Homo sapiens: one gene and its partners. The protein of the gene in region 2 purifies or fractionates together with the protein of the main gene of each other region. This does not show direct contact. Each region holds a gene or a part of one and is shown on either strand. Other genes may lie near its edges.

Evidence for each region.
Region 1: the proteins of TBC1D2 (region 2) and INTS9 fractionate together in Homo sapiens (co-fractionation; one large-scale study listed by BioGRID). This does not show direct contact.
Region 3: the proteins of TBC1D2 (region 2) and SASS6 purify together in Homo sapiens (affinity purification with mass spectrometry; one large-scale study listed by BioGRID and IntAct). This does not show direct contact.

What each region holds. Positions count from the first base shown.
Region 1 is NC_000008.11:28,883,319-28,886,971, forward strand, and holds part of INTS9 (integrator complex subunit 9), read right to left. Parts: intron 1-3,653. UniProt on the Homo sapiens protein: Component of the integrator complex, a multiprotein complex that terminates RNA polymerase II (Pol II) transcription in the promoter-proximal region of genes.
Region 2 is NC_000009.12:98,253,531-98,257,283, forward strand, and holds the start of TBC1D2 (TBC1 domain family member 2A), read right to left. Parts: upstream 2,120-3,753; 5' UTR 2,012-2,119; coding exon 1,643-2,011; intron 1-1,642. UniProt on the Homo sapiens protein: Acts as a GTPase-activating protein for RAB7A. Signal effector acting as a linker between RAC1 and RAB7A, leading to RAB7A inactivation and subsequent inhibition of cadherin degradation and reduced cell-cell adhesion.
Region 3 is NC_000001.11:100,122,786-100,126,438, reverse strand, and holds part of SASS6 (spindle assembly abnormal protein 6 homolog), read left to right. Parts: intron 1-496; coding exon 497-557; intron 558-2,461; exon of another isoform or gene 2,462-3,149; coding exon 3,150-3,229; intron 3,230-3,653.

The DNA of each region.
Region 1 (3,653 bases), on a different chromosome or scaffold from region 2:
CCCCTTTCTGGTCCATCTTCCCACGTCTGCAATCACTACTCCAGGGACACTTTACTAAACACGGATGAAGTCTATAGTAGACTGAGAGCATGTGAGGATAGATCAAAGAAGAAAGTTACATTCAGAAGACAAATAGTAAAAGTAAAGAAACAGCATCATTGGCAAGGGTGGGGAAAATGCATTCTCATATACTACCTGTACAATGGAAAACTAGTGAGCAATTTGGCCTTATCTGTTAAAATTTTCAGAAAGCATATTACTGGATACAATTAAATACAGTTTTGACCATTACATGTAACAAAAATATTTGAGCCTGAGCCCAAGGGTATCTCTAATCAGGACATTCAATGTAATACTGCTTGAATTGGACAGTAAACCCACTAGGCTTCACGTTCCATATAGGCTGGGGATAAATCTGTTTTGTTCACTGCAATATGCTTAGTATCTTGAGCAATGCCTGGTACAGAGCAGGTGTTCAGAAGATTTGTTGAGTAAATACATGAATGATGGAGACCTGAGGGTTGGTTTATGCCTGGACCTCTGCTGGTGTTCAGCAAACCAGGAGTGTATTTTCCATGTGGAATGACTTGGTGGCCATGCTGCAACCTGGGCCCTTGTGAACTGTTAACTAAATATTGCTGAACATCAGAGCAAATGCCAGAGGGATATGAGTACTCAGAGCAAACCAGTCACAAAACAAATATGCTACTGTGGTACCGTGGTTATAGCAAGAGTAATGCTGTAATACTTCTATTAGTACAGTCTTCTGGCTTTGCTGATTGACCATAGGTAAGCCAGATTTTTTTTTTCAATTCAACTACTACTACCAAAAGTCTGTCATCAGTGTATCTTTTTTTTTTTTTTTTTTTTTTTTTTTTTTGGTTGGAGACAGGGCCTTGTTCTGTCACTCAGGCTAGAGTGCAGAGGTGCAATCAGCTCACTGTAACCTCAAATCCCTGGGCTCAAGCAAACCTCTCACCTCAGCCTACTGAGTAGCTGGGACTACGGGCACAAGACACCAGGCCTAGCTAATTTTTAGTTTTTTTTGTACAGACAGGGTCTCACTATGTTGCCCAGGCTGGTCTGGAACACCTGGGCTCAAGTGATCCTCCTCCTCAGCTTCCTGAAGTGCTAGGATTACAGGTGTGAGCCACTGTGCTTGGCCCGATATATTTTTTTGCCTTGTTAAGTATAAAATATTTAATCTTCAGAATAATAATTTTGGACTCTGAAATGCCTAAGAGTAAAATATCCATCTTTATCACAGACCATTACTGAGAAAGGTATGTAACTTAGCCTTATGTCACACGCAGCTTTTCAGAGTTTGAGGAAATCATGAAGGAAAAAACCTATTGAGGTTATGATAAAATATGACCTTTGAAAAGCTTGAAATGACATTACATCCTAAAGACACAGGAGGGCACTCTTATTAACCAGCAAAGAAAAACAGAAAAGACAGTGAAGTCAAGCTGACATTTTAACAATTTGTACTGCAATAGTTGAATCAAGCACCGATAAAATGTTGAGGGCTTGTAATTTATAGCCCGAGATTTCCTGTTTTCATGTACAACCTAGGAAGCCAACAGGATTCTACAACCATGTAAACTGGAGGAAGAATCCAACACTCTCAGATCCAAGGTGAGGATTAACCACGCCCCTTTCTAATGATTTCTTAAACTGACCTTGGGGCAGGATTTGCCCCTTTCAAGCAATCTTCTACATAATCTACAATTGCACTCGGTGTTTTACTTGTCTTCCACTGGGAGCAGTCCATGAATTCATTTCTTTGCTCCATCTGTTTTCCCAGGAGAAATGGCAAGTTAAAAGTTTGAGCCAGTAGAAATGAAACAGCATTTTGAACAAAGGAGCAAAGACCACTGAAGAATGTATTTCGTGGCCTTCTCAAGTTTTAAAATTTGTAAACACAACTACAGCATGTAATTTTCTCCTTCAAATTTAATAAGTATAGTATAACAAGCATTTAAATGACCTTCCTTTAAGACTTTTAACAAGCCGGCCTCTGCAGAGCGCCATGGATTCTGAGGCACTCAGGCCCCTCCCAAAGGATTAACATTAATCTTAAAGTCACATTCAAATTTGTGTCTCAGCAAAATTATAAATAATTCCATGTCACAGGGGTCAAATGTAATGGTTAAAATGGAAAGCGTTAAAATTGTGAATGCCAAGGGTATACTGTGGTTGCATAAAAAATCTTTGTTGACTGAATAAGCCAGAAGATTCTCTCCATCTCAGGTACTATCTGTAGGAAGTACAACACACAGGCTGCATTCTTGAACTGCTTTGGATTATTTTATTCGCTTGACTCTTCATCTATTTAAATGACTGGGTTCCTGGCCATGATGTTTCAAACTTAATTTCTGTCAACGTGCTCAGAATTTTTTGTTCCATGTTCTTTCGGTAAGGACCTTTGTGAATTCCAGTTTCTATCCTTAGCTGAACTGGCCATCAGCGTACTCAGTTAGGCTCAATCTATACAAATAACAGAACATGCTCTAAAATGTGCTAATTTAAAAGATATATTTCTAATTTTCCTCTGCTTTCTAAAATGATTCTGGTTAACTGAAAATGCCAATGAGTTTTCTTCAGTTAAATAAAGCTGCCTGAATATTGCATATTATAAATACGGAAAGCCACTGAAATCCTCTGAGTTGGTATCTAAGAAGGAGATACCCAAGTATTACGTTATAATGGCATCCATTGTTTTCATGTGGGTGTGTGAAAAGCCACCAAGAGGGTGATGTGCAAAGTTAGAGAATTATAAATGGTATCACAGGAGCTAAATTTGGAAGATAAAAAATACTAACTTCAGCACCAAATTAGTATGCTCTGATATGGGGGCCTTTAGCTCATCAAGAAAGTCCTCAAACTTAAAAAAAATTTTTTTTTAACCAATAACCTTAAAAACTTTTTTTTGTTTTTTGTTTTTGAGATAGGGTCTCATTTTGTCACCCAGGTTGTAATGCAGTGGTGCCATCACAGCTCACTCCAGCCTCAACCTTCTAGGCGCAAGTGATCCTCCTGCCTCAGCCCCTCAAGTAGCTGGGACTACAGGCACATGCCACGACGCTCAGCTAGTTTTTGTATCTTTTGTAAAGACAGGTTTTGCCATGTTGCTCAGGCTGGTCTAGAACTCCTGATCTCAAGCCATCTGCCTGCCTCCGCCTCCCAAAGTGCTGGGATTACAGTCATGAACCACTGCACCTGGCCTGAAGATCTTAATTGAACCACACTTGCATTTAAAGCTAATTTTTAAAAATAGCCTTGAATATATTTTCTGTATGCACTCTACCTTCTTTTTTTTTAAGAGATAACCTAGGCATGGTGCAGGGTGCTAGAGTTCCTACCCTCACTAAATAACAGGGAAACCTGGGTTTCGATCTTGGCTCTATCATTTTTAATCCATGCTAACTTTAAGCCACTTACTTCACCTCCCTGAAGCTCACATTTTTTGTCTGTAAAATGGGAATACTGTCACCTGGATCAAAGGATTAAATGGGAAACTACATAGCAAATACTTAGCACATTGCCTGGCACACAATAATTGCTTTATAAAAGGTAGCTATCATTCCTTTTTTACTTCAATGGTTACTGCTTATTGTAATCTCTTTAATTTCACTCTTTAATCTTTTCTC
Region 2 (3,753 bases):
GCTCTTCAACTCCATCCTTTGGGCCCCTCTGTTTTTCTGGCTCATGTGATTTGCCTGGACACTCAGGGCTGTATCATGGTTTCCTAATTTGCTCACGGTGCTCTCTTGGCCTGGAATACCTTTCTCCCTCTTGTCTGCTTGCCACCTATTTCTTCTTTCAAGCCTTGGGTGTGTCCCTCCTCCAGATGCCTTTCTGGCTAGCCCCTTCCACTTGGTGGAACTGACTCCTCCTGTCACCACACCTTCTTGCACAGACTTATCACATGTCTCTACAGAACATTTCAGGGTGCATGCAGGTTCTCCCTCAGTCTCTCCCACCAGACTTTAAGCTGTCAGAGAACCAGGGGTGGGGGTGCATTAGCTCCACACCCCGCCAAGCGCAGAGCCAGGAACAATGGAATACTATTATAAAGACCATGTGTTGAAGACCCTGCATACAGCAGTCAACCTGTGGAAGAGACACATAGACCCGGGAACCACATGACCTCGAAAATGCCTTCCCTGGCCAGGGATTCCTGAGTTTCATTATTTTAACCAAGTCCCCCAGCCTGGTCACCCGCCAAGTCCAGTCAGTAAAGGAGAACTGAACACGTGGGCATCCACAGATACCCACTTAGCTGGAGTTGGGGTTGGAGGGGTGGACAGATGGGGATGGGGTGGGGAAGGCTATCTCCTGGCACATTCTTCTCTGATGCCCATAGAACACTTAGCCCAGATCTGTCTTTCCAATTAAGTTATGGGACACCTCCTCTTGACATTAGCACTCTGACCTTGGTTCCATCACCTTGTGTGTGCATGTGTGCTTATGCAACAAAAAATTATTAAGTACTCCACTAGGTACCAGGCTGTATTCTAGGTGATGCAATTAATTCAACAATTTGTACATGCCTGTGATGTGTCAAATGCTTACAAACCACCTAGGTTCTGAGAGGTTAAGTAACTTGTCCAGGGTCACACAGCTAGTAAGTAGCAAATGTACAATTTGAATCCAAGCCCGTCTGATTTCAAAGAATGTGGCCTTTCTACTGCTTTAGGCTTTCTCAGTTACACATGATGATAAAACCTACCCCTTGCTGCTGATAGGAAAACAGGTTTAAGCATGCCTAGATGAACAATCTAGGCTGATCAGTGAAACCTAAGTGTTTATTTTCCTAATCCCTGCCAGTCTCTTCTCAGCATTCACTGACCTTGGCCAAAATATCAAGAAACGGGAATCAGAATCCTGGCCTTGAGAGAGGATTGCAAAGACCATATTTTGACTTACTTAGGTCCCAGGTAAGAAAGTTAAGGTAACTGCACTGTCAGGCACACCCAAAAGTAAAAGTTTTGATTCAGCACTGAGAGGTAGAAAGACTATGGGATTCCAAGCTACCCTACTCTCTAGACGCATGGACCTCGAGCCAGTCCTTTCATCTCCCTCTGACTCAGTTTCTTGATCCGTAAAATGGGTCTGTCTTCCCTGCCTTGTGGGAACCCAATGAGGAAATGGGTGGGAATGCACTTTGCAAAGCACAAAGTTCTTGGAACTGTCGTCACCGACACTCCAAATTTACTGTGTCCACCTCACACTCGCGCCCAGCCTTGCCCTGCGAAAAGGGGACCTCACGCCGCTGGAAAGGAGAAAGTCGTTGCAGGAATTTACCTTCAGGGTAATAACCCGGCTGGGAGTCTTGATTTCGAAGATCCCCTCCTCAGCGTCCGCCTTACAGTCAAACACTGCACTGGAGAGGTCGATGCTGTCCAAGGGATTGGCATCCTGAGCGGTCCGCGAGTAATACAGCTGACATTTCCTTTCGTCGTAGAAGAACCAGCGGGATTTCCAGCCCCGGATGGGCCCTTTGCCGCCGAACTTACTTAAATACCCACAGAGTTTCTTGGGGACCGCCTCCAGGGACCGGGCGCAGTCCCCCGATTCTTCCTCCGGAGGCGGCACCTGTGGATCCCTGGCAGACTCTTCGGACCCAGGGGCAGAGGAGCTGGACTCCGGGGCGTTCTCCCCAGCGCCCTCCATCGCTGCCAGCCGGAGACTGCGGAGGGACGAGGGGTCCGCGGGACCACCAGGGACAAATCTCGGAGACTCGGCGGGCAGCTTCCCAAAGGGAGACACCTGGGCGGGGGCGGGGCCGACGGCGAACCCGCCCCCAGGAAGCCACAGAGTCGGGACCGGGTGCGGTGCGCGCGCCTCAAAGATCGCAAACCCAGGTTACGGCGGCTGGCCACGCCCCTCCACCGCCAGGCCACGCCCCCGCAGCGCTCAGTCGGCTCCCTGCAAAGCCCAGCTGCTTCCGGCTTTTTCTCCGCGCCAGTCAGCCATCTTTACTGAGGGCAGCCGTGCTCCCTGGCTTCAGGTTAAAGGCGTGGTGGCACTGAGTTAGGTTAACCGCGGGCAGAGAAGCCTGTCCCTAGCTACACTTCCCTGGTAGTTCGCATAGTCACCTAGAAAGATAGTGCTTTCTTGCACCCGATGGGCTGCTTGTTCCCTCCCTGTGCCGCGCGGGGCACCCTCGGACGGCGCATCTCGCGGCCATTGGCTGAAAGGAAGACCGCTGGGAGGCCCATCTTCCGGCGTCGCCCGGGCAGCGCGGCTCCGGAGCTGTCTGCCACTCTTCTCCTGGTGTTCCTTCAGCCCCGTCAGTGACGCCGCGGACGGCCTTCTTATCCCTCGCCTGACAGCAGTGGCCTCCCCAGCTCTCTGTCCTGGCTCCTATTCGCCTCCTGACAGCGCTGGTTGTGTTGCTTGGGGCGCCCAGGCGCGGCCGCTGCGCTGCGGAAACCCATGCCACTCCTGGGTCATAGTTGGGTGCAGTACATTTATTTTTATTTTGTTATTGCTATTATTATTTTTAGAGACGGTCTGGCTCTGTCACCCAGGCTGGAGTGCAGTGGCGCGATCAGAGCTCACTGCAGTCTCCGCCTCCCGGTCTCAAGCCATCCTCCCGCCTCAGTCTCCCGAGTAGCTGAGACCGCAACTGCGCACCACCACACCCGGCTAATTTTTAAATTGTTTTTTGCAGAGAGGGGGGTCTTGAACTCCTGGCCTCAAGCGATTCTCCTGCCTCGGCCTCCTAAAGTGCTGGAATTACAGGCGAGAGCCACCGCGCCAGGCTGTTTTGTAAATAAGTAAAAGAATTTAGGGTTTGACTAACTTGCTCAACTTCTGCCTCATTTTACCTGTTTCCCCTTAAACTTCTCCCCTTCCCTCCTAAGGCGCATTTCTCCATTAGGGTTGCGGAGCCCAATTGCGTCCAGCTTTCTTTAGGAGCTTCTTTCTGCCTTTCTCTTGCCCTTTGTTCAGCCTTTCCTCTTACTTCATCGTCTCCCCCTCAGCCGTCGTTAACGAGACCCTCATGCACACTCAGTGATATTGACAAGAAGCAGGGTGGGGGTAAAGGCGAGGGCTCTAGAGTCTATTTGCATAATTTTCAGATTCCCACTCTGCAATACTGAGTGATTTGCTCAACCTAAAAATGGAGATAACACTTCTTCCTACCCACCCCCGACCCGCCGCCAGACAACTTTACGGTGAAGCTAATGAAATTTATGTTCACTTGCATGGGTCGCTGGGATTTGTAGTCTAACAGGTGGGGAGTTGCAACCAGGGAGCATTTCTCCTAAATGCCAGAGAGCTCTTCATTTGTTATAATTTACAATTTATTTTCTCATTCTAAATAACCATCGTCATACCTAATTTTGTGTTCATAATTTTGTAATTTTTTAAAAATCAGAAGGCCCTTAATGCTGTTTAATTCCAGT
Region 3 (3,653 bases), on a different chromosome or scaffold from region 2:
ATGGTAATTTTTTAATGTGAAAAGTTGTTACTAAATTGGTGGTTTGTCTTTCTAGATGTTATTTTAGAATCAGGGCAGTAAGGGTATATGAGGTTCTTACCTCATTTAATCCTCAAAACATCCCCATTTTACAGTTGAAAAGTTACTAAATTGATGGTTTGTCTTTCAATAGATGTTACTTTACAATCAGGGCCGCAAAGTCATATATCAGGCTAGTGCTAGGCACTCCACAGTGTTTATTTCATTTAATCCTCACGATATCCCCATTTTACAGGTGAGAAAAATTTAGTTTTAGGTTAAACACTGCTAGATTACTCACTAGTGGAACAAGAAGAAATTAAGCTTCAAATCCGGTGTGCTTTTCAAACTTCTGTTCATAAGTTAGAGAACACCTGTGGAAAGTCTTGTCACTTAAGACTGAAAACTTAATACAAATGATAGTGATAACTCATTTCGTGTGAATGTTTCTGATGGTTGGGTATGTCTTTTCCTACAGGAGAGTAAGTATAAGAATGAGCATTGAACTACAATCAGTTTCTAATCCAGTTCACAGAAAGGTTGGTATTTAGTCCTTTTTTGAAATATCATTTCGGTACATTGTAGACAATTAGTTTTGTTCTTTAAGAATGTGACATCTTTTATTGCATTTATTTTGCTTTTACATTTTAGGCTATTTTGCAACTGTTGGAAATCAAGGGTGGTGGAATCTACTGAGACAACAACTGAAGGATAATTATACTATATATTTCTTTTTTTTTTTTTTTTTTTTGAGATGGAGTCTTGCTCTGTCACCAGGCTGGAGTGCAGTGGCACGATCTCGGCTCACTCACCTCCCGGGTTCAAACAATTCTCCTGCCTCAGCCTCCCAAGTAGCTGGGACTACAGGCATGCACCACCACGCCCAGCTAATTTTTGTATTTTTAGTAGAGACGGGGTTTCACCATGTTGGCCAGGATGGTCTCGATCTCTTGACCTTGTGATCTGCCCACCTCGGCCTCCCAAAGTGCTGAGATTACAGGCTTGAACCACTGTGCCCGGCCTATACCATATATTTCTAAAACATACGTGAAAAATTGTGGGGTGGGGTGACATTCTCCTTAGATTTGCCCAGTGCACTTAGAAGTTGCATATTATATATATATAATAACATATATATAAAAATATATTTTATTGCTGTTGGTCATACACACACACACACACACACACACACACACACTGCTGCCTTGTAGAATTGGCATTTCATGGTATAAATGTAAAAACAATAAACCGAAGTACTGCAGGGAGATATTTGTGAATCTTTTACTTTACGTTTTGAAGAGAGGCATTTAGAGTATCAGTCTCATATAACCTTCAAAAGTGTGAGTCATTAACAGAACTAAGGATATAGAATAGAGGAGGGGTCCCCAACCCCCTGGCCACTTACTGGTACGGTCTGTGGCCTGTTAGGAGCCAGGCTGCACAGCAGGAGGTGAGTGGCAGGCAGGGAAGCGAGTGTAACCTCCTACGATCCACCTCCTGTCAGATCAGTGGTGGCATTAGAGTCTCATAGGAGTGCAAACCCTATTGTGAACTGTACATGCAAGGGATCTCAGCTGTATGCTCCTTATGAGAATCTAATGGCTGATCTGAGGTGGAAGTTTCATCCTGAAACCATCCTTCACTCCCTAATTCTTGGAAAAATGTCTTCTACAAAACTGGTTTCTAGTGCCAAAAAGGTTGGGGGCCACTGGAACAGAGAACTAAGAAATACGGCATCTGTGCCAAGGGCAGTGCCTCACACCTGTAATCCCAGCACTTTGGGAGGCTGAAGTAGGCAGATTGCTTGAGCCAGGAGTTTGAAACCAGTGTAGGCAACATGGTGAAATCCCATCTCTACAAAAAAATACACAAATTAGCTGAATGTGGTGGCACACTCCTGTAGTTCCATCTACTTGAGAGGCTGAGGTGGAAGGATCACTTGAGACTGGGAGGTTGAGGCTGCAGTGAGCTGTGAGGGTGCCACTGCAACCTAGACTGGGCGACAGAGCGAGACCCCATGTCAAAAAACACTGAAATATAGCATCTGTTTTCTGTGTGCCATAGCTTTCCCTGAACACATTCAAGGACCTAGTAGTATTAATAGTACCTTTGGTTTTTTAAGTAGCATCCTGGGTGAATTTCAGGAAGTACTTAAATAGAAGCTGCTTAAGAACAAGGCATTCTGAGGCAGAGCAGGTGCCTAAATTACTAATTTTCCAGAGTAGAGATGATATATTATACTTCTTACATGTTATTCCTTATGCCTGCTGTACCTCTTCATTTTCTAGCTTGGTGCATAAGTGGTTTAGATTTTTCTAGGATCTTAGCATTTCCTCAGTAGACATGAGTAGAGATTTTATTTCAAATGAATTCTTAACCTTAATGCCCAGTTCTTTATTAGTTTTACATCATCTTGTAACTAATGCTGTTTTTCTTTCACCAGTGTTCTCTGGTACATAATTTTGGTGTACTTTTTGTGAGCTCTAGCTGTTATGATGGTCTCCCACACTATGTACACGTAGCTACCTGGAAAGTGATCTTTATGAAAGGTACTTACTTCATTTGAGACTGAAAACAGTTGGGCTTCCATATCAGTGGCCACCTGGCCTAGGAGAGAATAGGCTCTTTGGAAGAAGCCTGGCAACGTGTTACCTGATACCCTGGTCTTCTGAGAGACAGAAGCTCTTTTTTCTAGTGTGGATTATTGTCAGTTCTGCTGATATATTTGCCACTTTTGAAATGCCATACCAGTTAACTTTAAGGAAACTAAAAATAAAATTGAATGTGGTATGTTCAGTGGTAAAGAAAATTTTCATCATGTTATGGTGTAGCAAGGACTGGGTCTAAATTTCCCCAAGCCTCTGATAGGAGGATATTCCTAAACTTTCAACTCCTAGCACTTGCTTAACTTTTACAGACCTCCATGTGGCTTTTAAAGAGCGGAATGTCTACCCCTATTTAAGATTCTAACTCTCTAAAGACTAATAAAAAACCAGCAGCACTAGAAAACAAAGCTGTCTGCAATATAACTATGATACACTGATGTTGTTGGATTTCTTTACTTCTGAGAAGAAATTACTCAAAAGGCCAGATCTAGTAAAAACATTTAAAAACAACAAACTTTCTTTTAGGACTTAGTTATTCGTCTGACTGATGACACGGATCCATTTTTTTTATATAACCTTGTTATATCTGAGGAAGATTTTCAAAGGTAACTAAATTTTTTTCTGATCTTATATTTAGTGAAAAAATAAGTTTCTAAGTTTTATTGGTACTGTTCTCTTTCAAACACATACCTACATATTAGATTTAGTTACTTTGGGAATATTGGGCTATTTGTACTATCTTTACTTAGGGTGTTTTGGAAAATAAATATTTTGTGGGTTATTAGAATTCTGCTTAAAACACCTGTGAAGTTTGAAGCTTTTGCTGAATTTATTGATTTTTTTTCCCATTGAATACGTTCTATAAAAATCAGAGTTCCTTAGCTTAGTTCTTGATTATAACAAGCGTTAGTAAATTTGAAAAAAGAATCCTTCAGGATGCTAATTATAATTAAAGATAGTAATTGGCCAGGCACGGTGGCTCACGCCTGTAATCCCAGCACTTTGGGCGGCCGAAGAGGGCGGATCATG